5 separate regions of the Homo sapiens genome follow, and regions 1, 2, 3 and 4 are each reported to be linked to region 5. The links are microRNA targets in miRTarBase. Many come from high-throughput screens and were not tested one by one. Region 5 holds a microRNA gene; each other region holds the end of a gene's coding sequence.

Evidence for each region. The annotated mature microRNA hsa-miR-3153 reads GGGGAAAGCGAGUAGGGACAUUU and lies in region 5 at 2,238-2,260, opposite strand. An mRNA with a match to its seed (bases 2 to 7 or 8) in the 3' UTR can be bound and repressed. Matches are read on the target gene's strand: a 7mer-m8 pairs with bases 2 to 8, a 7mer-A1 pairs with bases 2 to 7 and ends in A, and an 8mer does both.
Region 1: the mRNA of SLC25A36 is a reported target of hsa-miR-3153. Seed matches in the 3' UTR shown: 7mer-A1 at 4,354-4,360.
Region 2: the mRNA of DPP6 is a reported target of hsa-miR-3153. Seed matches in the 3' UTR shown: 8mer at 4,394-4,401.
Region 3: the mRNA of RPH3A is a reported target of hsa-miR-3153. Seed matches in the 3' UTR shown: 7mer-m8 at 1,506-1,512, 7mer-A1 at 2,317-2,323, 7mer-m8 at 2,419-2,425 and 7mer-m8 at 2,593-2,599.
Region 4: miRTarBase lists ACADSB as a target of hsa-miR-3153. Seed matches in the 3' UTR shown: 8mer at 3,759-3,766.

The regions. Positions count from the first base shown.
Region 1 is chr3:140,975,280-140,981,179 of GRCh38, forward strand. It overlaps SLC25A36 (solute carrier family 25 member 36), which reads left to right. Exons shown (of 7, transcript NM_001104647.3): 7 at 981-5,716. The coding sequence ends at 1,174. Among named protein-coding and RNA genes, the nearest start is that of SLC25A36, 36 kb to the left of the region's middle.
Region 2 is chr7:154,892,052-154,897,832 of GRCh38, reverse strand. DPP6 (dipeptidyl peptidase like 6) reads right to left here. Exons shown (of 26, transcript NM_130797.4): 26 at 3,548-5,499. The coding sequence ends at 5,353. Among named protein-coding and RNA genes, the nearest start is that of PAXIP1-AS2, 34 kb to the left of the region's middle.
Region 3 is chr12:112,896,000-112,901,899 of GRCh38, forward strand. It overlaps RPH3A (rabphilin 3A), which reads left to right. Exons shown (of 22, transcript NM_001143854.2): 22 at 651-2,882. The coding sequence ends at 781. Among named protein-coding and RNA genes, the nearest start is that of OAS1, 8.0 kb to the right of the region's middle.
Region 4 is chr10:123,052,289-123,058,188 of GRCh38, forward strand. ACADSB (acyl-CoA dehydrogenase short/branched chain) reads left to right here. Exons shown (of 11, transcript NM_001609.4): 10 at 773-872; 11 at 1,407-5,900. The coding sequence ends at 1,477. Among named protein-coding and RNA genes, the nearest start is that of ACADSB, 46 kb to the left of the region's middle.
Region 5 is chr9:89,308,634-89,314,533 of GRCh38, reverse strand. It overlaps MIR3153 (microRNA 3153), which reads right to left and starts at 2,309; the gene lies at 2,228-2,309. It overlaps CKS2 (CDC28 protein kinase regulatory subunit 2), which reads right to left and starts at 3,339. Exons shown (of 3, transcript NM_001827.3): 1 at 3,183-3,339. The coding sequence starts at 3,241. It overlaps LOC105376136 (a long non-coding RNA gene), which reads left to right and starts at 3,732. Exons shown (of 3, transcript XR_930101.4): 1 at 3,732-5,168; 2 at 5,588-5,676. RefSeq lists enhancers at 2,784-2,833, 3,504-3,793 and a silencer at 3,804-4,033.

The DNA of each region.
Region 1 (5,900 bases), not on the chromosome of region 5:
TAATTTTTAGTAGAGACATAGTCTTGCTGGGTTCCCCAGGCTGGTCTCAAACTCTGGGCTCAAGCGATTCTCCCACCTCGGCCTCCCAGAATGCTAGTCAGGCTCAGGCATGAGCCACCACACCTGTCCAAACAGGACATTTTGGAGTTAAATGGCACGAATCTTTAAGACAGAACAGATTTCAAGTAAATAGTTACAATTGCTGTGGGTTGCTTTAGACTATTTCCCTAGGCCCATCTGGAATACTGTGCTGAAAAAATTTGAGGAATAGTGGATGTAAAAAAAAGTAGTTACATAGGAAGCTGTGAGTTCTTGTCCCAGCTTCTACCCACAACTGGCCAAAATTTCTCAGTAGCTCCAATTTCTCACCTTTTAAAATGAGGAAAAATTGGACTGACTAATCTTTAAGGTTCATTCAGCTCTTAAAAATTTATTATTTTTGCTTACCTGATTCCCAGACTGGGTTTTATAGCTGGCAGCTAGTGTTTGGAACATTGTCAACTTCTTTGTCCACATGATGTTTCACATTCATATATGTGGACTGTTTTGAATAGATTAATAATGCTATTGTTTCTTTGTAGTACTCACTTTAAACAAATCTTTTCTGCTTGTTTCTCACTGTATCCTTTTTATATTCATCCTGGATGCCACCTCTTTACTGCCTCTTCACCTTTTCCTCCTTCTCATTTCTATTCTTCCTTTTATCTGTTTATCTAGCATACAACTGATACTTCTCTCTTGTTATATTGTGTCTTTTTACATTCAAAGACTATAAAGTCTATAATTAATGTACATGATTTTGGCCATATTAGAAGTTTGATGTTACTATAATGTGACTGGTTTCAATAAGCTACACATTAGAAGCCATCCTTTTTTATCCTGAGCTTACACTTACAGACTGATAAATGGGATGTGCTCAGTTATAATTAGAAGAGTGTAAAGATATCAGTAATGTTTAATTTTATTTCTTTCCTACACAGAAGTTGTAAGAACAAGACTACGTGAAGAGGGAACAAAATACAGATCTTTTTTTCAGACTCTATCTTTGCTTGTTCAAGAAGAAGGTTATGGGTCTCTTTATCGTGGTCTGACAACTCATCTAGTGAGACAGATTCCAAACACAGCCATTATGATGGCCACCTATGAATTGGTGGTTTACCTACTCAATGGATAGCAGCACGAGGACTGCTGTACTGCAAAAAAAGAAGACCAAAAGATTACAGTGGACCATGGGATACAGAAGCCAGCATGGCAGACAGAAGAAAAATAGTTTGGGAACATGTAACTATTCTAAGTGGAAGTTTTGTTGTAGGAATTATAGTAATCACACCACATTACTTGGCCTTTCGGTAATGTGAAAAAAAAAAAAAACCTCAGAGCCTCCAAGGAAATGCCTTTAGAAGCACTCCTCTCTCAAAATTGCCATTTTCTCTACCATGTCCCCCAGACACAGTTGGGTTTTGTTGATTTATGGCAGTCTTCTAAACAAAGCCATCCTTAATTTTACATACTGTATTGTAACTATCCAAAGATAGTATTGGCAGTCATAAATTTATAACTTCTGGCCTTTGTTTAATTCCAGTAAAATAACAGCAATGACAATGAGATCGTCAGTATTATTTTCACATTTCCCTGAGAGGACCTGGCACAATATTTTAAATTTAATTATTTGGCAGTAGTCACTGTTTTTGACAACCAATGAAATAGCGTCTAAATATCTTGTATATTTTTTAGCATCAAAATGTTTTGGTTTCCACTGCTGACAGGTGCTTGTTGTTTAGCCTAATGTGGATATTTAAATTGTTAACATACCAAACACACATGGTAATAGTTTGGGACAAAATAACTAGTAAAATGTTGATTTCTCGGCTTTTTCACTGACTGCGGCATGTCCTCGTGTCTTCTCTGATTTTGTGGTACATGAATGAATGCATTTATCTTTTTAGTGACTTACTAGTTACGAACTTGAATTATCACCTCTTTGTCATACTTAAGTATCATTTACATAAAGTGTAAAAGATTTTTTCACTTTTGAATCTTTACCTACTTGCTTTCACATTAAGAATTTGAACTTTTGAGTTTTTTCCAGGTCTATATATAATAGATTACATTTATTTTGTAAAGAAAATAGTAATTTAAAGTTTTGCCATTTTAAGGTGACAATATTTGGGACAGTATAAATATTATAGACAAGGGCCCCCTTGCTGTCTGCTTTAGCAGGTAGTGACATTAATTGACTTATAGTTTTGTGTAAATGAACAAACTGCTTTTGACAAGAAATTTATTCTGTCCTAGTTTCCTGCGTGGTAAATCATAGAAAGATTCAAGTTCATTTGGGTTAAATGTGCTAATAGGATGTAGCTTTTAAATTCTGCTATTGAGTCAGCTGTACCTTTTAATACTTTAAATGTGTTATTTGTATGGCCCTTATAAAGGTGTTTGCTGTAATTCTGTTAAAAGACTTCGCCTATGCCATACTGGTGTATAAAAACTGCCGCAATTGGACGCCGGTGTGGTACTCATTTCAGTATACCTGAACTGTACATTTTGTGCAATGGCTTTATCTAAAAGAATGACGCTTCGTGAAAGCACTTTGTGGCCTTTTTTGGGGGGGAGGGTGAGAGAGTAGGAGAGAATACCATGTTAAGATTAAAAAAAAAAACAAAAACATTGGTCACGTATTAGGCAGAAACAGTGTTCATAACATTTTTCTGGGTTTTAAATATGTTGTTTCGGATATCCTTAATATAAATGTTTTAGGTATTCTGTGTACCCTGTCGTACCCCCAACATTATAGAATATTGCAGCGTGTCATTGCAAGCTTTCTCTGCTGTCACCAGTGAAACATAGTGCCCTGTTAAATTCCCCCACTTTAACTTCCTTGTGATCAACAGTAACTGGATGTTTTTGAGGTGCTCAATTGGAATAAAAATATTCCAATCTATTTGGAGACCAAAGGCAAAATCAGTTTTCTTACCTTTGGAATTATTCGTACCTTTTATGGTAAATTTCAGCTTTGACATGTATTATGAGGAACGTACCAAAAACCGGTTTGTAACAAATCTGTAGAGAAGGTCTGAATCTATCGTGTTTGCCTTTTCAGGTGCCATTTCTACTGCCTAATACAGTGCCATTTGCCTTGTGAAGACCCATAAACATTCATTGTGTTGAATGTAAGATAGAGACTCTCCCTAGTCTTACTGATCTCAGTACCCCACAAATGATTAAGAATGATATGAAAACCAGCAGCTAAGGAACATCTTATTATTTAGTTGTAGCATATTCATAACAAGTGTCCTTCAAGGATAAACATATATTCTCTATTTGTATTTAGCAAGTAAAACTTGTGTTGACCTTTAGTGCATTATATTCAGCTTTTAACAGTATTATGTATGTACTGGAAAGCAAAGAAATCTTAGAGTCTTGGACATTGTTTATTTGTGCAACAACTAGAAAGGAGCAATGAAGTTTATTTCAGTTGTATTTTTCCCTAAGCACAATCTGCAATAGTTTATGTATGACAGAGATAATTCAAAAAGGAAAACTATATATAAAAGTTGTATATAAAGTTTGTCTCTGAAATATTTCTTTGAAGTTTTTAAAAAATCGACTCATGTTTAAAAACAAAAACACATATTCAGAGCATTGGACTTTTTTAACTTGTTTTCATCTGTTTATCATGACTTTTTTATTTCTGGTGTAGAGTCCACATTATTTAGTTTGTTGTACTTTTAAATTTCAAAGTTCAAATCTGAAGAATTAGCGTTTGTGATTTCGGGATACCATGCAGTGGTTTTAATCCCAGGAAAAAAACTATCACCAAAAGTTCGTTTGATTCTCATTATGTAACTTTGTAGAACCATCCTTTCTAGATGGGTCCACCACAGTGAATTTGTAACTTTGAAGTCAGGATAGAATATCATTAGATTATCTGTGAGATAGCATTACTATGTTAGGACCAGCAGAGTTTGGGTTGGTAAAAATAATGTTTGCTCTATTACTGGGTTACAGACATTTCAGCATTTTTAGGTTGGTTTTAAATCACTAAAAATATTTATTCGGATTTGAAGGATTTAAGTGCTAAAAATCAATCCATTTCTTGCCCTTCAATAATTGTCCATGCCTGCCTTTTGTTGTTTACATGCTCTTCTGCCCAGACTGTTAGTAATCTAGGGACCCCCTTTGGAGCTGATAAGTACAGTTCAGCCTTTTCTCCTCAAATATATAATGACTTTAACATTCCTAAGAATATAGGTATTTCTGAATGATTTAAATTTGAGGAATTTTAATACATAAAATACAATGTACAAACTTTCTGCCCACTCAGATCTCTTCTCCATCATGTACTTAGTATTTCCCATTAACCTACACACTGATTTTTATGCTACTCCTTGTAGAAACAAAATTCTGGTTTGACTCAGTTTTTGTGTTTATAAACTTTTGGAATGTGTACCCCGTTTATGTGAAGAATTATGACCTATCAGTCATAGCTAAATAGTGAACCTCAAAAGTGTTAACTTTTGACTATTCATGTGAGGTTTGGTATCTTGCATTTATGTACATGGCTGTAAATTATGTGCATTTACTCTGTATTTATGTTATCTAGCTGACTTTTACTTGAATTGTTCAAATTTTAAAAATTAAAATACGCTCATGAAAATATGGCTTTTTCTGTAATATATCAACATTTTATTGAGAACATAATCACACTTTTTTGGATTATCCTATGTGTGGAACAAAAATCCATTGCCATTTTCAGGTTAAGTTTTAGGCTCGCTTGATTCAGTCAGCAAACCTTATCTTGAGCACTTTGTATCTGTTAGATCTAGTGATGTCTGAAGGAACCCAAAGGTCAAGTAATCCAACTCCCTCATAGTGTACAAAGAAATCTTGCATATCTTCCACAGGTTTATTGACTTTTATCCAACACTTTTCATGTTTTAATTTCAGCCTTTGTGAAAGTTGATATTAAAAATACAGAGGTGAGAACTTGTTAGAATAACCAAATGAATCCACATAATGTTAGATCAAAATACAAATGACAAAGATAAAATGCTATGTAGTGCCTACCCTCTTTACATTTTGTCTATTTTATTTAAGTTTTTCTGTATTGTAGTTAACATCAAACATTGTCCAGTCTTGAGGAAACCAGGACGAAATATATTTTGTATTTCAACATTGACATAAATCTGAAATTGTTGGTTCTACTAATAGTACTCTGCACTGAAGGCACTGGCAAAATAATGGTTAAAATTGAGCACAGGTGTTCCAAGTTGTGTGTGTGTGTTTATTACTGAACATTGGGAGCCGTGATAGGGAAGTAATTTGTGAGTTCATGATTTCTTAAGGTTCTAGTGTGACATTTATACACTGATAAAACTCAGGCAAGCAAAATGTAATTAAATGTTCCCCCTGCCCCCCCCCCCTTTTAATATATATACACGGAGCTTCACTCTTGTCACCCATGCTGGAGTGCAATGACATGATCTCAGGTCACTGCAACCTCTGCCTCCCGGGTTCAAGCGATTCTGCCTCAGCCTGACTTCCCTTCTGTTTCTTTATTTTCGCACTGTGTAGACCAGCTGACTGCCTTAATATGTATTGAATCAATTCAAGATTTATGTTCATAGAGTGCTGTGTTTATACAGTGGTGTCATGTGATTTCTTAATAGCCTATAGATCCAATAAATACAGAGGAATATTAGTTACAACTGGAGTTTTTGACTTGAGTGCTCTGAATCTTAGTCCTGTGTTTTTTTATTTACTACACTAGGTTATTCACCAGCACTTGACAATAGATAGATGTTTTAGAAACTTCGTTCTAAAGGAAAGATGGATAGAAGTTGGCTCTGAATGAAACATTAGGAAGTAATCAGGAACAGAGTTGAATACATAAGAAC
Region 2 (5,781 bases), not on the chromosome of region 5:
GGGTGCAGCACACCAACATGGCACATGTATACCTATGTAACAAACCTGCACGTTGTGCACATGTACCCTAGAACTTAAAGTATAATAATTAAAAATAAAATAAAAAAAGTTGGAAAAAAAAAAGAGAATTTCTAGAAAGGATCCCTGGCTGGATAGGAATTGGAAGGACCCATAGCTCTGTGGTTTTCTCAGAGCCTGGATCTTGACGCCCATGTCCACTGAGCCAGGCTCCATGTTGGCTGGAGACTGTGCTTGGGGCACCCACACGGGTGAGGACGAGCACCCCAAGGGACCATGCTAGACACCCCCAGCCCAGCTCTGTGGAGAAAGGCAGCTGGCTACTACTCCCGGGGCCCTGAGGCCAGGACTTGTGAGTTTATCATTGAAGAAAACACAGCAGGAAAAAAGGGCGGAAGGAATGCAGGACTGTGACTGTTTCCTGCGTGGTTTTGGACAACTTCCTTGCCTTCTCTGGGCTTCAGATTCCCTATCTGTATAGTGTCACTGGCTGAGTTCAGATGGAGAATGACCATTTTGGAGCTTGTGGTTTGCAGAGGGGAAGCCAGGCCTTCGGGAGCAGCCCTGGAAGGCTGCCCGTCTGCCTGTCTGGACCCCTGGGGAGCCCCAGCAGGGAGGTCAGTCTCCTGAGGCTCTGTCCGCCTCCTCTGCCTCCCTCCTTCCCTGGCCTCAGAGTCCCCAGAGGCCCCTCAGCAACTCTTCTCTGAAATAAAAGAACACCTATTTTCTCCCTGGAATGCCAGTGTGAAAATAAACAAAGACCACCTGTGACAGACTGAATGTTATGTTTCCCCAAATTCACTGTTGAAGCCCTAAGCCCCGGTGTGATGGCTAGAGATGGAGCATCTGGGAAGTGATTAGGGTTAGAAGAGGTCATAAGTGTGTGTCCCCCATGATGGGATTTGTGCCTTGTAAGAAGAAACATCAGAGAAGTCTCTTCTCATGCTCTTGCTCCCTCTCGCTCCTTCTCACTCTGCCACGTGCAGACAGAGGGAGAAGACGATCAATAGTAAACCAGGGAGAGAACCCTCACCAGGAACCGAGTGTGCTGGCCCCATGATCTTAGACTTCTGGGCTCTAGAACTGTGAGAAATCAAGTCCTACTATTTAAGCCCCCAGTCTATGGGACTTCACTATGGCCGCTAAGGCTAAGACTGTACTAAAATGAGTGTGAGCAGAGGCTGCTTATCCAGAGCTTTCTCCAGCAAGGGGCTCACTGCTCTTACCTGCGTTCGGACGGGGGGGTGGGTGAGCTTCACGGTGGAGAAAAGGAGGCTCCAGGGATGCTCTGGCTGGAGGCTGCTGGAGTGGGAAGCTGGAGGCGCTCAGAAGCAGGGCGTCCCAGGAGATTGGTTGTGGGTATCTGGCTTTTCCCAGTTGGTCCTCAGTTAGAAGCAGGGCTGAGAATAAGGGAAGCTGGTATTTACTGCTCAAATCCTGACCTCTGGGACCAACTGCTGCAGAGGCCATGCCTGGCCCCGGGGCAGTGTCTGCAGGTGCAGGTTGGAGCCCTGCCCTGATTTATGGCCTGGCCCTTGTCCGTGGGCACATCCAGGCTCTCACCAGGCGCCCGTCTCGGCGTAGCTGCCCGTCTACGAACACGCAGCTGTGTACCAGGAGGGAGCACCAAGGGAGCTTCTGAAAATGTCCTTCCGGGCTCTTCTGTGACAGAGGGGATTTTAATAGGGGCTTCCCGAAAACAATCAATCCCTTAAATCACTGCTTCTGGGTGGGTTGGGTCAGGCAGGAGGGAAAGGAGCATGTTTTCAGGCCAGTGGGGATGGAGGTCCCCCCACGTGCATGTCTTTGTGAACCTGATGGCCCATGGCCTCAGAGATGCCCCAGGCAGCCCAGGAGTTGGGCTGTGGGCCTGGAGCTGGGTGCTGAGAAACCTGATGGTGCTTTGGGAATTCCATAGCTGCCTGGTTGGAAGTTCAGTATTAAAACTAATTTAGGCCAGGTGCGGTGGCTCACGCCTGTAATCCCAGCACTTTGGGAGGCTGAGGTGGGCGGATCACGAGGTCAGGAGATCAAGACCATCCTAGCTAACATGGTGAAACTCCGTCTCTACTAAAAATGCAAAAAATTAGCTGGGTGTGGTGGCGCTTGCCTGTAATCCCAGCTACTCGGGAGGCTGAGGCAGGAGAGTCACTTGAACCAGGGAGTCAGAAGTTGCAGTGAGCTGAGATTGCGCCACTGCACTCCAGCCTGGTGACAGAGCGACATACCATCTCAAAAAAAAAAAAAAACAAAAACCTAATTTAAAACGGAAATAAAAGTAGCACTCTACTGTGCCACGCACGTGCAGTTTGAAAACACAGAGAAGGCTGCAGTGGGGGATTTGAGCCAGGCAGGCACAGCAACCACAGCCGCGGCGGCCTGGTGAGGCCACGCCGGCGTCTTCCCAAAGCCATTCTAGAGCTGGGGAAAGACCAAAGCTTCTCCAAGTGGGAACCGGAGTGGTCCCTGCTGGTTGCGGCCAACACTTGTTCTCAGGGCCAGGCCTAGCTCGTCATTCCACACTCAGTGTTTTCCAAAGTGGGAAAATGCACCTTCTTGAGCAAACCGTCAACTCCTATCCACAAATCAAGCCCTGGTCCGGGGGAAGGACTCAGGGATGGAAAGCTGGGATGGGGGCACTGGCCTCCTTCTGGGGCGAGACCAGGGAGAGGGCCAGGGTGGCTCACAGAGATACTGTTTGGGGGGAATGAGTATGTTAGACTTAGATGGCCTCTGCTGTGTCTGGTTTTTAAAAATCTCCTTTCACATTTGATTCTTTCTTTTTCCTTTTTAACTCCTCCTCTCCACCCACCCCATTCTTTCCATGATTCTTGATCCAGAGGGTGACAAGAATCAGCTAATTCAGCGGGGCTGATGGGACTGATCCCCCATCTCTGAGGCAGCAGCTGCTCCATGGTCGGGAAGTATTAATTAATTAATTAAATCAATCCCTTGGCTTTCAGGCTGGGCCATGTTTACATCGACATTGATAACAGCAAATGAGTGGATACATTTCCAACAGATGGAGACATTTTTCTACAGTTTTCTAGGCCAGGCATGGTGGCTCACGCCTATAATCCCAGCACTTTGGGAGGCCGAGGCAGGAGGATCACTTGAGGCCAGGGGTTCAAGACCAGCCTGGGCAACATGGCAAAACCCCATCTCTACAAAAAAAAAGAAAAAAAAATTAAAGTTTTCTAGTGGGCAATGCTATGGCTTCCACTGAGAATCAATTTCACTCTCAGGGTTAGGGAATAGCTCTGCGTCTCCACCCTAAGACTCCCAAGACAAAATTCAAATTTGTTTTCTTGGACTGATTTGGGGCTTTGATATATTCGACTGGTTGCGTCCTTCTCTACTACCCAGACTGCTGCGACCATGGATGCAACCTTCATTTGGCACACAACAGGCTCTTGTGGCCATGCATCCGTCTTGGAGGGGCCCAGTGGGTTCTCTGAAAGTCTCCTGAAGCCTAGCACACTTTCTAAGGTGCGATGGGGGAGGATGAGCAAGAAAGGAACAATCCGAGTGGTAAAATAATGTTTTATTCCATGGATGAACAGACGCTACCATGCCACATCCCCACTTCCCTCCGACCAGATGTCGTGGCCAGAGCTGGCTTCCCCTTCCAGACCTAGCTGGCTTTGTAGTCGTTCAGGCCCATTGAAATAGCAAACGCACAGTCATGTAGCACTCGGATCGGTCCTGTTTATCAGCACGTTGGTCCTTTCACAAATGGTGGTGAATCACCTTTAAAACACCCAGTGATGGAGACCTTCCAATCACCCTAACTATAACGGACGTTCAGAGCTCATGTGGATAAACCCAAAGCCCCAAACGCCAAAATGCAACAGGGACGCATCTCCTCTGCTGATGGGATGCCAAGGACACCCCCGCAGGGCTGGGAGCTGGCGAAGTCAGTCCTGACATTCAGCTTGTCCACAAGCTCAAAAGGAAATGACAGTAATGGATATATTTCAAACTAGCACTTCTAGAGTCCAGATCGGCCACAGTGTCAGCATGCAGGCTCAACACGGGGTTAGCACTGGCGGGAGGAGGCTGGGTTGACTGCACAGAGGCCTGACACACATTGCTTCCTTTATATACAAGAGAATGAAATATACACTGGGAACACCGGCTGCACATTTGGTGGGGGTGTATCTTACAAGGCTAACGTAGCACATCATCAACCTCCTGCTCGTGGCAGGAAGGTCACGGAGCCACCCCCACGATGGGAGAGGGATGCGCGCAGGCCCACAGAACCCTCAGGACTCCCGTGGCCCGAGCACACACAGCGGGCCTGTGGGTGGAGTTGACGCTTTGTCTTTTTTCTGTTTTTTTTTTTTTTTTTTTTTTTTTTTTAAACCAAATGTCATGGGAAAGAGCTTGATACGGTACCAAGGAGGACAAGGATGGTTGTAAGGACGGATGTAAATAGACAGTGCACACCTACAGCCAAGCCCTAGCATAGCTGAGTGGGAGAGAGGTTTTATTTAGGTATTTCTTTTAATGGGTGCTATTGGCTGTCTTCCCCCTCAGTGTTTAGGAACGTCCCCAAGACGTCTGAAGACAACCTTGAGGAGGGAGCAGTTACTTCCGATCTGCTTCTTCATCAAGCGCAAAGTCTACACGTGGACTGGAGAAAGGAAAGGGAAACAAGGCCCAACCCCAAACAGCAAAACAACCCCATGACGGAGACAGTGGAGCATCAGGTTAAAACCATAGAAAAATACGAGTTAATTCTATCAGGTTAACCATTAGCGTAGCTACAGTAAGACTCTGTACAGAAAAGCGTTTTCTTGTAGCCCCTCACCATGTTGAACGTCCTCATTACAGGAAGTAGCAAGCCCATATATGAACACGCACTGCTAAAACAATGGTGCTGTAACTGCTGCGTCCATGGCACTGCGACGTGAGACAGGGTGTGATGTCCCTAACGGGAACACAGAGGCTAGTGTGGGCGGGTCTCATGCTTCCGCTTGGTGGCTGGAATCTAGGGGCCGGTGTCCTGTGGGCTCGCGTGGGGCCTGCGGCCACCATCCTTTGCTCTGTTCCTTGGGGGAGGGGCCGTGGCGTGCCGGTCTCTCGGGCGCCGGGAGGAGGCGCTGCTGCGGGGACAGCGTTGTCCCTGGTGCCATGGAGGCCGTGAGTGATGACCCCGGGGAAGGAGCTTGTTTCCCAAGCAAAACTGCCTTCCGCATCCGAGACACACATGCTATGGAACACCCGGCCCCGCCCCGCCCCGCCCCTCCGAGGGAAGAGGGAGGGCAGGGAAATCCCTCGGTTGCATCTGGTTGTAGAAAGAGCCACGTTTGTGCTTAGAGCGACCTGAGCTTAGTCCTCCTCCTCGTCCTCTTTCGCTGTGACTGTCAGCAGTTTGTCCTGGATCCTGAAGCATTCCACGAAGAAGTTGATGATGGACCGGTACAGATGCTGTTTGAGGCTGGAGCTGGTAAAGTAATGGCTTTCGTCCGGGTAAATCTGCAAGGAAGGCACGGAGAAATTACTCTCCCAGGTATACGCTCCCCAGGGGACGGGAACGCACAGAAGGTGTGGAGTTTAGTGAAACCTGGGCCCCGTCCGGGGCTGGATTGTAGTTGATGAAGTGGGTTTGCTAACCATGCCACTCCTGATGGAAGTGCCTCTTCCTCCTGGGAGATCTGCCTGGCTGTCCCAGTCAGAGGGGCGCCTCCCCTAGCGTGGACATGCACCACCCATTCGTGAAGCCAACCAGCCTTCAAACACCACCACGCCCCCGGTGCC
Region 3 (5,900 bases), not on the chromosome of region 5:
AATTGAGACCCATGATCTTGACCTTGGTCCAATTTGGGGATGTCTTTACATGAAAAGCCTTACAAAACTTGATTATTTGTTGAACAAATCACCTCCAGTGGGGTAATTAAATCACAGGAGAGATTTGCGTTCTCTGCAGAAAGCAGGGTGCAAAAGAATTCTTAATTTATTTGCATGTCCAGGATAAAATTTTTAATTTTTTAGTTCCTGTTTGAATCATGAGGAAGAAAATCAATTAAAGATGAAGCAGGGGGGTGGGGACTCCAGGCAAGGGACAGAGCCTGAGCTAAGGGGTAAAGACAGGATTGAGCAGGATGATGAACCTTTTTGGAAATAGACAATGAGTTCCCAGAAGTAGTGGGAGATAAGTTTCAGTGAGTAGAATGGTGATTTGTAGAAAGCCTTTAAAAATAGACAGTGAAATTATGACTCAGTGGAACAGTAGGGAGCCATTGCAGGTTCTTGAGGCAGAGAAGGACCGTAATAATAATAACAACAACAGCAGCAACGTTATAACAACTCTCTATAGAGTATGGATCCCAGGTTGCTGGGGGTCACTGCTTGGTGCAGTTTTTTCCCCAACTACACATTTGGGTCTAGAACGACCTCTATTCTGACCACCTGCTCCTATCTTCCCATTTATCCTCCAGGAGGCTGCCAGCTGGGGATCTCTGCCAAGGGAGAGCGCTTAAAACACTGGTACGAGTGTCTGAAAAATAAAGACAAGAAGATAGAGCGCTGGCACCAGCTACAGAATGAGAACCACGTGTCAAGTGATTAGGCTAGTGCCCAGGTCCCCATCTCCATGTCCCGGGTCCCCCCCAGCCTGCTCTAGCTGCCCACCGCACCCTGATCTCTCTTCTCTATGCCTACCTCCCCCCATACCCTGCTGATCTCCCTGAGCCTGCCTTTGAGCCCCCGTCACGTTGGGCACTGCTGCCAAAGACTCCCTCCTCCCTGATGCTGGGATGTGGGCTCTGAATACAGCCCCTCTCTCATCCCTGGGATGGAGCAATGGGGATGGGGTTGGGGAGACGTTTACAAAGAGGTTGATCATTTAATAACCTCTCAGTTTGGGTAAATTACAAAGGTTCTTCATCATTTAGGACTGTTTTTAGACCCTCCTAGCCTTGAACACACACATGTACACACACACACACACACACACACACACACCCTTTCATTCCCTGTGTTGTGTCTCTGTATATCCCCAGTTGTCAGCAGACCCGGACAATGCTGTGAGAGAAGCATTGGGGCACAAATAGAGCCTCCGGGCTCCCACTGCCCCCTGAGATGTACACCCTGATTGCCAGGAAAACAGACTGCTGTGTTCAGTAACACACCCTCCCTGCTCCAAGTGCACCAGGATGCAAATGCACAGAATTCACCAGGGGCTTGGACGCTCTCCTCTTTCCGAATGTCACCTGTGTGCTTCCTAGCAAAACAAAAACAAACGACAACAACAAAAAACCCTTCCTCTGTCACCTTTTCTCCTCCTCCCTCTTCTTTCCCTTCCATGATAGTAGATTCTCTCTTTCTCAGCCTCTCCCCTCTCCTTTCTCTCCCTGCCTTTCTTCCCTTTGCCTTTCTCTCTCTCTAAAGCAGTAACACCGCAAAAACAACAGCAAAAAAAGTGTATGTTAACCTAGCCTCACCCCCTTGCTCTCACCAGCCTGACCAGGAAACTGAGAAACTGGCCCAAACCTGAGATTCCACTTGGGCCCACGCTTCTTAACTGACCCACTCCTCCCGTTGGCAGAACCAGACATTCCCAGGGCTTGGGCCAATGGCTGGCACTGCCCTGAGTGCATGGCAGCATCCCTCAAGCTGTGTAGATGCCCCATAGAGGACTCTCTCATCCGTGGGCTCCCCGGGTGGGCACGGAGGCATTTAGAAGACCAGGGCCATGGGTCTGAGGAAGCCTCAGCCAAAGCCTCCAGCCTTTCTCCTTTCTCCGCTCTTAGGTAAATGAACAAGCTACCCTCCTCCCCAATGCCCTTGACTCTGTTTCATTGACTCTTTTGCATCCCATCTCTCACTCAGAACCCCCTCCAGTCTCTCTGTCTCTCTTTGTCTGTCTCTCTGTCTCCTGCACTCTCGTTACTAAGCTTCCTGGGAGAATCAAATAATATCATGGCTATGGAACAGTAGAGAGAGACAGGCCTGATGCCAAAGGCTTTGGGCTCATCATCAATCTTTCACTTTCTTCCTATAAAAAAAATTATTTTATAAAGGAGGAAAAGGCAATGTGGGCAAACATTACAAATTTGAGGTTGAAGTCAGGCAATCTTCAATGCCCTGTGAGAAAGGTTCGATTTTCCCAATTTTGATGAAGTCTTCCCTCATGAAAATCACTCCCAGTCATCCCAAACCCCTGACATTCTCTACAGAAGCATCAGACAGATACTCAAACTCTCACTTTCCCCAAATCACATCTCTTAACTTTTCAACGCCCTCCACCCTCAGCTCCCTGCACAATTCATGGGAGGACTCATTTCTTGCCTTGAATAACCATTTTCTAAACATCGAGCTCTTCACCTTCCCCAAGGTGGCCAACAGCTTCCTGGCTGCCATCTTTCCTTTTGACCTTATCTTTCCCCATTAGTCCCTGGTGGCACCTACTCTCAGCCCACCTCCCTCACCACAGTTTCCCCTTAGGAGACAGCATGCTGGCTGTGTCGCCCAAGCCTGATGCTGGTGTAGGCGCTGGAATCAGCATGCAGCAAGCTCACAGTGCCCCTAGTCTGGGTGCCCGCTGTCCCCGACAAATGTAACCACCTCCCTGCCTAGAATACACACACGTCCTCCGGTGCATGCACAACCACCCAGCATCTTTCTTTGTGATGATGTAGCCAAAAATAAAGTAGGAGCATCCAAGAAAACGAGTGGTCTGCAGTTTTCCTTTCTGGTTTCTGCGAAGTCCTCCTCCCCACCAGGACATATGCTATTCTGATAGTCAGTACTTAATGAGCATCTACTATGTTCCAGGCACTGGCGACAGATGTGTTCTCTGCCCACGAGGAGTTTGCTTTATGGTGGATTTTATCTTGGGCAGGTGGGCCTAAGGTAACTTGGCTGACTCCAAACCCTTCTAGAAGAATACTTTTTGCTGGTGCCTACCAAACAGGAGGGCAACATCCTCATCCTCCTCCTGCTGCTACAAGACCTGGGAAACGTCCCAGGTGGTTGCAGAATCAGAAATTGCCAAAGCTAAAAGAGAACATACAATTGAGCCACAACCTAGTTCAATCAACTCACTTTTTAGACAGATGAAGAAACCAAGGTCCAGAGAAGAAAATGCCATGTCCAGTGTTAAACAAAGGCAATACCAGGAAAGGAGTTCGATCGTTGGACTCCCAGAATCCAGTGTTCTTCACACACTGATCGATGAGCATGGACCATCAAATGCCTCCCTTGCATTGTAGCACCTTCCAACCTACAATGATTCTCTCATTGGAGATTCTCGATAGTCCTGAAGGTGAACTGAGTCAGCAACTGACTCTCCAGAAAAAAAAAATCTTTTTTTTTTTTTTTTTTATTATGGAGTCTCCCTCTGTCCCTCAGGCTGGAGTACAGTGGCACAATCTCTGCTCACTGCAACCTCCACCTCCCGGGTTCAAGTGATTCTCCTGCCTCAGCCTCCCGAGTAGCTGGGACTACAGGTGCTTGCCGCCACACCCGGCTAATTTTTATATTTTTAGTAGAGGCAGGGTTTCGCCATGTTGGTCAGGCTGGTCTCAAACTCCTGACCTCAGGTGATCCACTTGCCTTGGCTACTCAAAGTTTTGGGATTACAGGTGTGAGCCACTACACCCGGCCTCTAGAATTCTTAATCACACTATAATCCATCCCCAAAGTGCTTAAGCAATTTATCAGTAATGGTTACTTCAAGAAGGAGCCATCAATTCTGTCCCACAGATAATTCTCTTTTCTTTGAGACCATTTCCTGTTTGTGCCCTCAAAAGCAAAAGCTGGCATGTTAGTCTCACTTGGGAGATTTCTTTCCCCACAGATTCTGCTAAACCCTGAGGATAAGGTGTATAGTTGAAAATATTTTCTGGCCGGGCACAGCAGCTCATGCTTATAATCCCAGCACTTTGGGAGGCCGAGGTGGGTGAATCACCTGAGGTCAAGAGTTCGAGACCAGTCTGGCCAACAGGGTGAAACCCTGTCTCTACTAAAAATACAAAAATTAGCCAGGTGTGGTGGCGTGCACCTGTAGTGCCAGCTACTCGGGAGGCTGAAACAGGAGAATAGCTTGAACCTGGGAGGTGGAGGTTGCAGTGAGCTGAGATCATACCACTGTACTCCAACCTGGGTGACAGAGTAAGACGCCGCCTCAAAAAAAAAAAAAAAAAGAAAAAGAAAATATTTCCTGGTTGATGCCTTGTGATTTCCACCTTCATGATGACTTTGAAAACCACTACCCAAAAAGTTGATCAGTTTTTCCTGGTGGCAATTTAGCTAGCTGCCACTAGGTGGAGAGAGGTGCTAATTATGTCCTTAGAAGCCTCACAGGAACAGCTGGAGACACTTGCCATTCTCCCTGTGCTCCTGGCAGACATCACTAATCAATACGGCATCTTTCCTACAGAACCTACAAGCAGCCTCTGAGTCCCTCTCAACCCAGGGTTCCAGGGAGCCACCACCAGTCAGTCATGGGTGGCGGTTAAAAAGAAGCCTAATTTCCATCCTTAAACTGGTTGATCTTCATTTATATGCAGACAAGCCTAACAGACTGAGATGAACATACAGGAGGAAAGTTTTCATAAATATTAGTACACCTGATCTAGCTAATTGTGCTGCCCCACCCCTGACCCCTGGCTGACCCCATTGAAATAAAACACTCTGTAAGTGGCTATATGGTGTGTTGGAAAGCATCTGCCCTGAAAAGAACGCGAGCCAAAATTTCAATTAAGTCCAGCATTCAAATTCTGACTGACACTTTCTAGCTATGGGAACTTGGCCAAGTCATTTAGCCTCACTGAGTATCAGTTTCCTCAGCTGGAGTAATAAATATTTCAAAGAGTTGCTGAGAGATGTTAACGGTACAGTCCATCGAGAGTACCTGGCACGTAGTAGAGACTTGACAAGTGCCACCTCCGCTTGCCAGCCCCTAAACTTGGGCTCCCTCACGCAGCTTGCATCGGGGAAAATGCTCTTGAACTGGCATTGGTTGAAAACAGGACGTTGGAGCTGAAAGTGGGTGAAGTTCAGGTGAGGCAGAAATCAGATCTCCAAGGTCTCTGCACAGATGGGAGCAGACTCTCCTGCTGGTGCCCACAGAAATTCAGCCAACATCTAGAGATGTTTGTTCTGAGTAGGAGTCAGAGGCAAGATCAAGTTGCTGAGGTCTGGTTTCCCATCAGGGATGACAAAAGGGAGGCCAGGAAAAGGGGCAGGTCACAGGGCTGGTGGTTCCTGGTGAAAGCAGTGCAGGCCCAATTGCGGCTGGGCTTACCGCCAAGTGGATTAAACACTCAATGCTCTGAAACCTGCCAGGCTGACCCTTGCTCAGCTCAATCAGATCTGCCAGGGACATTGGCTTGATGAGGTTAAGCAAGCCATTCAAGGTGATGGACACCCCAATTACCCTGATGTGATTGTGACACATCATACACCTGTGTCCAAAATATTGCATGCACCCCATAAATATGTACAACTCTTATGTATTCATAATAATTAAAAATAATTTTTGACCAGGCATGGTGGCTGATGCCTGCAATCCCAGCACTGTGGGAGGCCAGGCAGGTGGATCACCTGAGGTCAGGAGTTCAAGACCAGCCTGGCCAATATGGTGAAATCCTGTCTCTACTGAAAATACAAAAAATTAGCCAGGCGTGGTGGCGGGCACCTGTAATCCTTGCTATTTGGGAGGCTGAGGCAGGAGAATCACTTGA
Region 4 (5,900 bases), not on the chromosome of region 5:
GCAGACAGTTGTTTCCAGCTTCTAGGGGCTGCTCACATTCCTTGACTCGTAGCCCCTTCCTCCATCTTCAAAGCCAACAATGTGGCATGTTCAGATCTCTCTCTGACTCTGCTTCCTGTCTCCATGGTCACGTCACCTTCCATGACTAACTCTCCTGCCTCCTCCTTTTCCTTATAAGGATCCCTGTGATTATATCACAGCCACCCAGATAATTCAGGGTAATCTCTCCATCTCGTGTCCTTACCCACATCTGCAGAGTCCCTATTGCCATGGAAGGCAGCATATTCACAGCTCTGAGGGCTAGGATGTGGACGTCCTTGAGGGGCCATTCTGCAGGGTCTCTCGCTCCTCCATTCTCTTTTCACATTTCACCCCGATCCCAGCCCACTGGCTGTCTCAGGGGCTGGAAGTTGAAGAGCTCATTCTCCCCTTGGAGGATTTCGACGTGTTGGTCCTCAGCTTGAAATGTCCCTTAGCTCGTCCGTTAGGCCCCCAGTAAACATTTCCTGAATAAATGATATCTCTCAGCATGCAGATTCATGTGAACAATGCTCTAATTTCTTAAGAAAATGGGGATTCTGTGAATTAATAGGATGTTTTACAGAAATGGTATGGAGAATGGGACTGAAGAGACAATGCTAGTTTAGAAGATAACTTTAGTCCTTCCAGTGCCACTAACAGTAAATCCATGTTGCTGAAAATGTTACCCAGAAGTGTTTATCATGTATAAGTTATGTGGTTTCAGTGTGTGATTTGCACTTGCTTTTGGTAGATTGCAGGACAAACAACGAGTAAATGTATCGAGTGGATGGGGGGAGTAGGCTACACCAAAGATTACCCTGTGGAGAAATACTTCCGAGATGCAAAGATTGGTAAATAGATTTTTTTTTTTTACATTTTATTTTGTTTTATTTGCCTCTGTAGGTATTTTGGCTGTTTTATTTGTCGTTTTTTTCCTAGGTAAAAGCAATTTTAATTTCTTCAGTATATGTTTGGTGGCTCTATTTATGTGGCTGGATTTTTTTCTTACCTCGTCCTTCAAAAAAAATTGTTCTATATTTTTAAAAAATATCAAATTGCCTTTTTAAATGCCTCAACAGGCTTTTTAGTAAAACTGCCACAAATAACAGTCTGAGCTTATGCATCAATTGTTGAAGAATCAAAATCTTCAACTTTTGTTTACACCTTTAGTCAGTTTAATACTGATCCTGGACATCGAGAAACCAAATGGAAAATTGTCATCTCTTAGTCAAAATTACTGTGAAATAGTACCATATTCAGGGGACATGAAGTGATGTGACTAGTAACTGTTTTATAGCAAGCGCAGAGGTGATGTTTATAGAGCTATTTCTTGTCTTAACCATGCGCCAACTCCTCATTGTTCCTTCTGCTTCCTTTTGCTTAAGGTACGATATATGAAGGAGCTTCCAACATCCAGTTGAACACCATTGCAAAGCATATCGATGCAGAATACTGACGTCTATAGGAGTGGGACCCCTCCCTGGTGTCACTGCTGTAAAATTTTAAACGGTTGTGTCTTGTTGGGAGTAAGTGCCTTGCGTGGGAATAAACTTCCACAGCATTCGAATATTTTAATGAAGCCCTTAGTCAGGGTCCTGGTGTTGGCCTTTTTGGTTTTCTCTTTTCAGGCTGTTTAACTTAGGCACAGGAGATCCACTTTTAAACTTGGGAAATAAGCACCTGTATTTTTTTCCAAAACTGTTTTTAAAGCTGTATACGCATACATATATATATTTTTACTCTGTCTTACTCTGTCACCCAGGCTAGAGTGCAGTGGCGCGATCTCAGCTCACTGCAGCCTTGACCTCCTGGGTTCCAGTGATTCTCATGCCTCATCCTCCCAAGTAGCTGGAACTACAGGTGTGCACCACCATGCCTGGTTCATTTTTGTGTTTTTAGTAGAGATGGGGTTTTACCATATTGCCCAGGCTGGTCTTCTGGCTTCTGGATATCGCCCACCTTGGCCTCCCAAAGTGCTGGGATTACAGGGATGAGCCACCGTGCCTGGCTGGGTATTTATATTATCATTCTAGTTTCAGAGTATACAGAAGTTTCATCCCATCATTTGGAAAAATAAAGGCATCTGAAGTACAATATTACTTATAGAAATAGTTTATATTCCTATTAAATCTTAATCTTGTGGCATCAGGGAAATATTTGTTACATAGTAGGCAATTTTTATCCAGTACTTTATAGATTCAACTCTAAGTTGCAAGCGAAGTCAAAACTGATGAAAATTTATTTAGAAAAATCTAAAAATTCTGGTTTTAAATATGAGAATCAGTGGAAAATAAGGGTATAATTTTGTAGGTCATATGATTGAAGAAAATATTATTTTAACAATGTAAAGCAATATGATTTGTTACTATAATTAACCTGTATAAAAGATACATTTTATGGTGGTTTCAGTAGGTCATTTTAAAAACCAATGTGCATTAGTTTTCAAGTATAAGGTTTAAGTAATTTGGTTTAATAATCAGAAAATATTCAATACAGTGTTGGATATTCTGTCATGCACTATTTTTCAGTTGACAATTTCTGTATTTTAATTGAATACTGTTTCTTCAGTCATGGTTATTGCACTTTATCCTGAATAATAATTCAGAAATTGGGTTTTGGTTCAGTGATTCTCAAGAAAAAGATCTCTTGCCCATTAAGAAGTGTATCAAAATCTCATAAGGAATGAGGGAGAGAAGGGGGCTGTAGAGTTTGAAAAAGCATATTCAATATTAAAATAGTTTTATATTTGGGAAGGCAAAAATGAATCTATTGTTTTGCAATATAGGTTATAAACAGGCAAAATGCAATAAAATATATATCTGGTTGTATTAGTCTGTTTTCACGCTGCTGATAAAGACATACCTGAGACCAGGAAGAAAAAGAGGTTTAATTGGACTTACAGTTCCACATGACTGGGGAGGCCTCAGAATCATGGTGGGAGGCAAAAAGCACTTCTTACATGGCGGCAGCAAGAGAAAATGAGAAAGAAGCAAAAGTGGAAACCCCTAATAAACCTATCAGATCTTGTGAGACTTACTATCACGAGAATAGCACAGGAAAGACTGGCCCCCATGATTCAATTACCTCCCCCGGGTCCCTCCCACAACACATGGGAATTCTGAGAGATACCATTTAAGTTGAGATTTCAGTGGGGACACAGCCAAACCATATCATTCTACCCCTGGCACCTCCAAATCTCATGTCCTCACATTTCAAAACCAATCATGCCTTCCCAACAGTCCCCCAAAGTCTTAACTCATTTCAGCATTAACCCAAAAGTCCGCAGTCCAAAGTTTCATCTGAGACAAGGCAAGTCCCTTCCACTTATGAACCTGTAAAATCAAAAGTAAACTAGTTACTTCCTAGATACAATGGGGGTACAGGTATTGGGTAAATACAGCCATTCCAAATGGGAGAAATTGGCCAACACAAAAGGGTAACAGGGCCCATGCAAGTCCAAAATTCAGCAGGGCAGTCAAATTTTAAACCTCCAAAATGATCACCTTTGACTCCACGTCTCACAATCATCTCTCTCAAGTTCGAAGTTCCACAAATCTCTAAGGCAAGGGAAAGATGCTGCCAGTCTCTTTGCTAAAACACAGCAAGAGTCACCTTTACTCCAGTTCCCAAAAAGTTTTTCATCTCCATCTGAGACCACCTCAGCCTGAATTTTATTGTCAATATTGCTATCAGCATTTTGGGCAAAGCCATTCAGCAAGTATCTAGGAAGTTCCAAACTTTCCCACATTTTCCTGTCTTCTTCTGAGCCCTTCAAACTGTTCCAACCTCTGCCTGTTACCCAGTTCCAAACTTGCTTTCATATTTTTGGCTATCTTTTCAGCAATGCCCCACTCTACTGTTAGCAGTTTACTGTATTAGTCTGTTTTCACACTGCTGATAAAGACATTCCTCAAGATTGTGAAGAAAAAGAGGTTTAATTGGACTTACAGTTCCACATGGCCGGGGAGGCCTCAGAATCATGGCGGGAGGTGAAAAGCACTTCGTACATGGTGGTGGCAAGAGAAAATGAAGAAGAAGCAAAAGTGGAAACCCCTGATAAACCCATCAGATCTCATGAGACTTACTATCATGAGAATAGCACAGGAAAGACTGGCCCCCCTGATTCGATGACCTCCCCCTGGGTCCCTCCCACAACATGTGGGAATTCCAGAAGATAAATTCAAGTTGCAATTTCAGTGGGGACATAGCCAAACCATATCACTGGTGATGCCACTTCTTCAGTATTAGGGATTCTCAGTCAGAAGAGACCCCCTGTGTGGCCTGAGTCCCCTCAGGAGGAAGGTGGACAACAGAGAAATGAGAGTTTTGATATTTTCTGAAAGAGGAACATGTGTTAGAGATGAAGAATCTTCCAAGGCTCATGCAGTTGCTTAGAATAATCATTACTGTTATATGAGAAACATTTTAGTAATTTAATAAAAGGATAATGTTTATTTAAAAAACCTGACTTTTCCAGAGTAATTTTGTTTTGCACATTCATGTTTATTGAAGTGGACTAATTTCTATAATGCAAATCAGAGTTAAATATTAAAAATTGTGTAAATACAATTGACATAGGAATTACATTAAAATATTAGGAAGAAACAAGGACAAATTTAGACCTTGAATCCGAAGAGATAAAGCTTACTTGACTTTCAAATGGAGAGATGATGAAAACCCACTCATTCACTCTTTCAGAACAAAAAGACAGTCATCTGATAAGAGTATGACATGGATGAAATGCCCTACAGGGGCCTTGGACATCTTTAATTTCTGCGATTATGTGAAAGAGGTGGACTTTACAGATAATGGAGCAGAAGCCAACATTAGTAAAAGGAATCCCAACTTCTTCCCATAGAATTAGAAACATGTGAAAGTACAATAAACTTCTTGTTCAAATTACCAGCATCAGAGAGCTTCCCATTTGCATCTAGACCTTGAATTTATATTTATTGATCAAGTTCTAATTTGTATGTATATTTTGTGCATATTCACCAATAACAGTTAAAATTAATTATGTGTTATAGTTAATATATGCACCTACCTTCTTCCGTTAGTGCATCAGTAAATGTGTTATTTTGTCATTTTTCCAAAGAGAGTGTTGTAGGTTTTCCCTGTAGTTCTTCCTTTATAGCTTTTCTTCTGATAACCATGACTTCAGGAGCTTTAAAACTATCTATCTTGCATTTGTGTCTGGCGGAGAACTAGCCATCAGCCTCCTGAAGCCTGCCATCATTGTTAATTTGAGGACTGGGCTGTCTTGGGGCTCAGAAGATAAAGAACTATTTGAGCAGATGTGTGTGGGTGGCACTGGATTCCACCCAACTGCCAAGTTAGTATTGTTAGAGATTTCATTTTACAACACAAAAATAAGCCTGTGTCAAAGATTTTAAAATCATGGAAAGTTAAAATCTAGAAAGACCTTAGAGAACCAGCCAACCAACTCTCTCATTTTAAAAGTGAAGGATTCATAGCACAGATTACTTGCCTAAGATCATCCAGGAACGAAGACAAGAATCCAAATGTACTTGGGGACAAGAATTAGTCCCCAAATTCAGTGTTCTTCCTAGTATTAAACATTGCCCCTTTCGACAAATTTTGGATTTCATTCTTGTTATATTTCAGTACTCTTGCTGATTTATTTTAGGTTTAACTGGTAAAGAATGAACATTTCAGAAGTGTTAGGATTAGTCAGTGTCATCGCTTATGTATATGAATCACTTGCCAAAGACACTGGCTCTCCTCAGCTGTAACCAGCATGTCAAATGTGAAGATTATTGTGTGGGATCCTTTGGTTTCATTGTTATGATGTATTTTATAAATGTACTAGTTATATCCTTGTTTATGTATTTTTGCTGATCTTTCATAAAGCAGAATGG
Region 5 (5,900 bases):
AAGTTGCTTTATACTTCAAGTACTTTGTTCAAAATTAAAAACAGAAAACCACTAACTGTACATACACATTGTGTGCAACCTCACCGTTTTCCAGTTAATTTACTGACCTATATCCAAAACTTACATTGTTCAGTTTCTTAGGCAAGCATGGAATAACCTTCAAAGTTAAACCATCAATATGTATAATTGTAGCCTTACGAGATTCTCAAAAACAAATCTGTATCATTAACAGTATCCCAAAGCATTCTATCAAAGATTTGCCTAACAAATCTCTTTCCCCAAATTGAGTAAGAATTTTTACTCAATTACCATAAAAAGGACTTTATGAAAGTCACAATTCTCAGCTCCATGTTTACCACCTGCAGTAGTAGCAACAGTTTTATACTGAACCATCCATAACCACCAACCCAAATTTTTAACCAGTATAAGATATCTGTCTGTGAGTCAGCTGGCTGGGGATGAATGAGGTGCAATCTGGTCACTTTCTGAGACACAGTAAACTGAATCCCTAACCCGCTATAAGCACCCAGCTGTCATCAACTTAAATTTTAGTCTGTGGTTAAGTACCAATTTATTTGCAGGGCAAAGTGAGCCTCAGAAAAATTCTACTGTGTTGTTAGATTGCCTTAAGGCCACCAAGTCATAGCTTACTACCATAATTTGTAGAGTTTTCATCAATTCCAGTGAACTATATAGTGATTCTTTGTAATTCTTACCAGTTATCACCCACATTCTTGAAATGCTGCTTTAACATCTAACTTCAAATAATCTGTTATCTTATTTCTACGTTCTATCTTGTTGATTATTCTCAAAGAGAAATGTAGTGCTTTTGTACCTTTTCTATCAAACTTACAGAGTACATAAATCTACCAACAAGTTATTTAGATAGAAGTTACCACCCTTCTCCATAAACACGGAAACAGGCTCTCCTCCATCAGGGTTTCTTTATAAAGGAAAAATGTTTAAGTAGCATCAACCCCATATGAGGATTCTACCTGTATTTTGCCACACAGAGATTTCAAACTAACTACATGTAAGGAAAATTATTTCCAAAATCTAACGTTTATTTCAGTTGAAATGCAAAATAGTGCAAGTATTACTAATTTGTAAGGCTGCCCAGAAAAATTAACAGTTTTTCTCTTGTGAAAACAGACTTCCATGATGTGGGGGTGGGGGCACCCACTGTTATGCCCTTAGAAACATTAAGACCCTCACGTAAAAGGACTAGGAAATTAAGTTTGTAATTAAGAAAAATCAAAGAAAGATAGAGATAACTGCACACTGGGAAAAATAAATACTAGCCTTTGAAATTTACATTGCATGCTGCACCATTACATATTAATACAAACCACCCTAGACTCATGCCTTAGTGCTATATTATTACTAGTTTCCCCTTTAAAATTATGTGTGGAAATTACTATCCTGTTTCATAAAGGTTACTGGCTTGGCCAATTAATACCAGCTCTAATTTTTATTGGATTAAAATACATCACTTCAGATATGTAAACTTTCTTCTATACATTACCACACACAAATCATTTGAGTATATTAAAACTAAAAAATCGACCTACTGCCATCAGAAAGAAGTCTGAGAAATAGCTTCATTTATTTTCAATATTATACCCTAAAAGAAACTTGTACCGACCCTTAAATCCTTATCCTAAACACTTGGCACCAGATGTGTTTCAGAATAATTTTCTAGGTTTTAGTAAGATTATTACGGTTTACATTGTGTTCATTATTGGATATCCTCAATAGGGCTCTTGATTAACATCGCATAATTGAACACTGCCAGCATATTACACGAGTATAGTTTATTATTACTATAAGGTTAACACAATCTACTTGAAATTTACCTACAGCCAGAAAAACATGCTATTTTTCTAGCTAGGAATACAAAAGGGTGCAATTACTACTACCCATAGAAATATTCAGTAGTCCTCATGTGAAAACAGACTTCCATGCTACTAGGGAGGGGGAGAAAAAGAGAAACCACCCACTGTTTTGTTCTTTCTTCCTTAAATAGCATTCGGAGAAATCTAACCTACAAAGGCAGCAGACAGAAAACAAGGTCACAATTTGGCCAACGATGGCATGGGCTTTATCTCCCCTAAATCTTGGTAGTATCCCAGAACGCAGCGTTCTAGTCGCTACCTAGTTAAGAAAAAGGGGTTGACTGTTTTCTGAAGCCACGCCCTAAATGAAGTGTCCCGCATACAGTAAGGACAACAAATTTTAAATGTCCCTACTCGCTTTCCCCCAATCTACTTTAATTGGGGGGAAGGGGACAGGGACATTTAAAATTTGTCTAATTTTACTGATCGATTACAGCCACCATGTTCTAGTACGGTGCTTCAGGACTCAAACGCAAAAGTTTCTCAAAGCCCAAAATTTGGCCAGTGTATACTAGCAGAAAATGATGCCCAAAGTCCACTCAAGTTCTTAATCGGCCTTAAAATGAAACTCCTTTAATAATACCCTCAATTGTATGACTGCGGCTAACCTATAATGGCCCAAATCACCATACCCAGTAAACATTTTCGAATCCCCATCAAGCTCATTTTTCGGGGGGTCGCCTCCAAAGCTTATTCTTATACCACTCACTTCAAAAACAAGAAAAAGAAAAGTGTTCCTCTGTGTTAACAGATGAAAATGACCATTTGACCATTCTAAACCACAAACTAGTAAAAGCTGCATCACCCCGTCAGCGACAGGGAAAGTGTGTCACGGTTGCTAAAGGAAAAAGGACGGCACCAGGTGGGTTTTCCTGGACTGGTTCAAAGAACTGGAACTGAGACCAGCTACTGAACGGCCTAATTACTTCGGCCACGGCCGAGAAAAAAGTGACGGGATGGTCACTCCGCGTCGCCGAGGACCCCATGACCCCCAAGTTGCGCCGGTTCCTACCCAGGTACTAAATGCGGCCCGGTGGGCACTCTTCCCTCACCCTCCGCGCACACCGAACAAAGGCCCAACCGGCCCGGCGCGGCCAGGCACCCAACCATGTCCGACTGCGCGGGGCGCCAGGTGGCCGCGACCCCAAACCCCGGCCCTCGCCCTCCGGCCCCGGGCTCCGCCCCCCAGGCCCCGGCCCCCACCCCCGACCCTACTATGCCTGGGTCGCCCCGCCCGCGGGGGCCCCGGCTGAGGGAGCCGGCTCGGGGTCTAAGAAAGGCGCCCACCGGTACTCGTAGTGTTCGTCGAAGTACTTGTCCGAGTAGTAGATCTGCTTGTGGGCCATCCTGCTGGCGCGCTGCAGAAAATGAAACGAGAGCGCGAAGAGCGGGCGCAGCAGACAAAACCACGTCCAGCCCAGGCAACAACTCGCCGGAGACTAACGACCGCAGTCCCAACGATCCGGATTTGAATCCGACAGCCCGCCGCCGATTGGACAGCAGCGCCGACCAATCACCTTCTGCGGAAGTCGGCCGGCTGCCAGCCTATCGTCGCCGCCGCCTCGCAAAGTCCGCTTCCTGGGTCAGCCAATCAGAGATCTGTTGCGAGGTTGCCCGAGGGAAGATAGGTACGTCACGGGGGTGGCAGGGCCCTTAACGGGCAGGGGCGTGGCCAGAGGAGGGCGAAGTCGGGACGTTAAGGGCCGCAGAGCGCGTGCGCAGGAACGTGGAAAGTTCCAGGACACGGAACCGTTGGGACGGAGGACCTGAAGGTGGAGTGAGGTATCACGGGGTTTGGTGATGACGTAGTCGGTCGAGGCCGGAAGCGTGGGCCACAGGGCTTTGAGCGGAAGCTGTCGACCTTGCACGGTGATGGCGCTCCTCGTGATCCCTTGTATCCCCTCAGGCTCGAGCCAGGAGCCTAGGTCCACTTTGAAAAGTAGTAAAAGGCAGAAAGGTTCTGCGGTGTGAGGGGGAGGGCGGCTTCGTGGTCGGCTGGGTCGGGGGAGCGCCGGGCGGCCGCGGCGTGGCTGTGTCCGGGGCTGCCCTGCGCAGCCGGCCGTTTCGCCGCCTGGTGCACTTGCTGAGCTTCCGGCCTGGCCCGTCGCGGGGCTCCTGGCGCCCCCCTAGACGACTGTGTGGAGAATGGAGCCTGCGGAGCCACGCGTAGAGAGAGGCCCGGAGCCGGCGCGGTGGCGGCGGGCGCCAGTGGTCCCAGCCACTCGGGAGGCCGAGGTGGAGTGTCGCTTGAGCCCAGGAGTTCCAGACAGGCCTGAGCAACAGAGCCAGACCCCGTCTCCACAAAGAAAGAAACAAATGGGCCAGAGACCCAGAATGCTTTCTGTAGCCTAACCTAATGTTCAAAACCAGGGCAGACCCAAGCCATGGAAAGCTTGAGGGAATAAAATAATATTCTGCTGCGGCCAAGAATAACAATGCTAATTCCTGGATAAGGGGATTTAAAATGATGTTTAACAACTTCTGGTCTTTTAATATTGACCCAAGTTTAAAAACATGTTCATATAAAAAAGTTACTGGAAGAAATTTATAAATGTAACTGGTGGTTATTTTTAGATGACAGAATTAAAAGTGATCTTTTTGGTATTTTTTCCACAACGAGCACGTGTCATTTTTATGTTAATTTCATTTTATGCGAAATGCTCCAGCGCAGTACAGGCTAGTGGGTTCAGGGTGGCTGTGACTAAGTAATGTAGATGGGGTACCTTAGACAAAGTTTCCAGACTAGAGGCTGGAAGTAAGAGGTCCGGGTGCCCTTTTCCACACTGCAGACCACGGACTTTTCCGGTTTCTGAACAAGTGAGACAGGCCGGCTAAGGACATTTATAATCTCCATGGGTGAGGGCCCCACCCTCATGACCATCTAATCTTGATTACCTCCCGAAGGCCCCACCTCCTAACTTCCTAATACAATCACTTCTTGGGGGAAGAGGGTGTTTGGAATTCCACCCCCCGCCCTTTTTTTTTTTTGGAGACAGTCTCACTCTGCTGCTCAGGCTGGAGTGCAGTGGTGTGATCTTGGCTCACTGCGACCTCCCCCTCCCAGGTTCAAGCCATTCTGCCTCAGCCTCCAGAGCAGCTGGGATTACAGGCCCAGCTAGTTTTTGTATTTTTAGTAGAAACGGGTTTTCATCATTTTGGCCAGGCTGGTCTCGAACTCCTGACCTCAAGTGAACTGCCCGCCTTGGCCTCGCAAAGTGCTGGGATCGTCAGAGGCAAGTGAACCAGAGCACCTTCATCTTAAACAGGAGCTGGGTAAGATGAGCCTAAAACCTACTGGGCTGCATTCCCAGACAGTTAAGGCATTCTAAGTCACAGGATGAAATGGGAGGTCAGCACAAAATACAGGTCATAAAGACCTTGTTGATGAAACAGGTTGCAGCAAAGGAGCCAGCCAAAACCCACCAAAACCAAAATGGCGAAGAGAGTGACTTTGGTCCTCACTGTTACACTCCCACCAGTGCCATGACAGTTTAGAAATGCCATGGCAACATCAGGAAGTTACCCTACATGGTCTAAAAAGGGGAGGCATGAATAATACACCCCTCGTTTAGCATATAAGCAAAAAATAACTATAAAAATGGGCAACCAGCAGCCCTCGGCTGTTCTGTCTATGGAGTAGCCATCCTTTTATTCCTTTACTTTCTTAATAAACTTACTTTCATTTTGCACAGTGGACTCACCCTGAATTCTTTCTTGCACGAGATCCAAGAATTCTCCCTTGGGATCTGGACTGGACCCCTTTCCTGTAACAGAATTACAGGTATGAGCCACAACACCCGGCCTGGAATTTCCACGCATGATTTGGTGGCTGGGAGCAGACACAAACATTCGTTCATACATGATAGAATCCTTCAGGTCTCAGATTAAGCATTTCATCTTCTGAAAGGCCTTCCTTAATCAACTTCTCTACAGAAAGTTCTTCAATTTCCCCATTATGCCCTTGCCACCGACTCCAGTGGGCTTCCCTCCCACTGTCGCAATTGC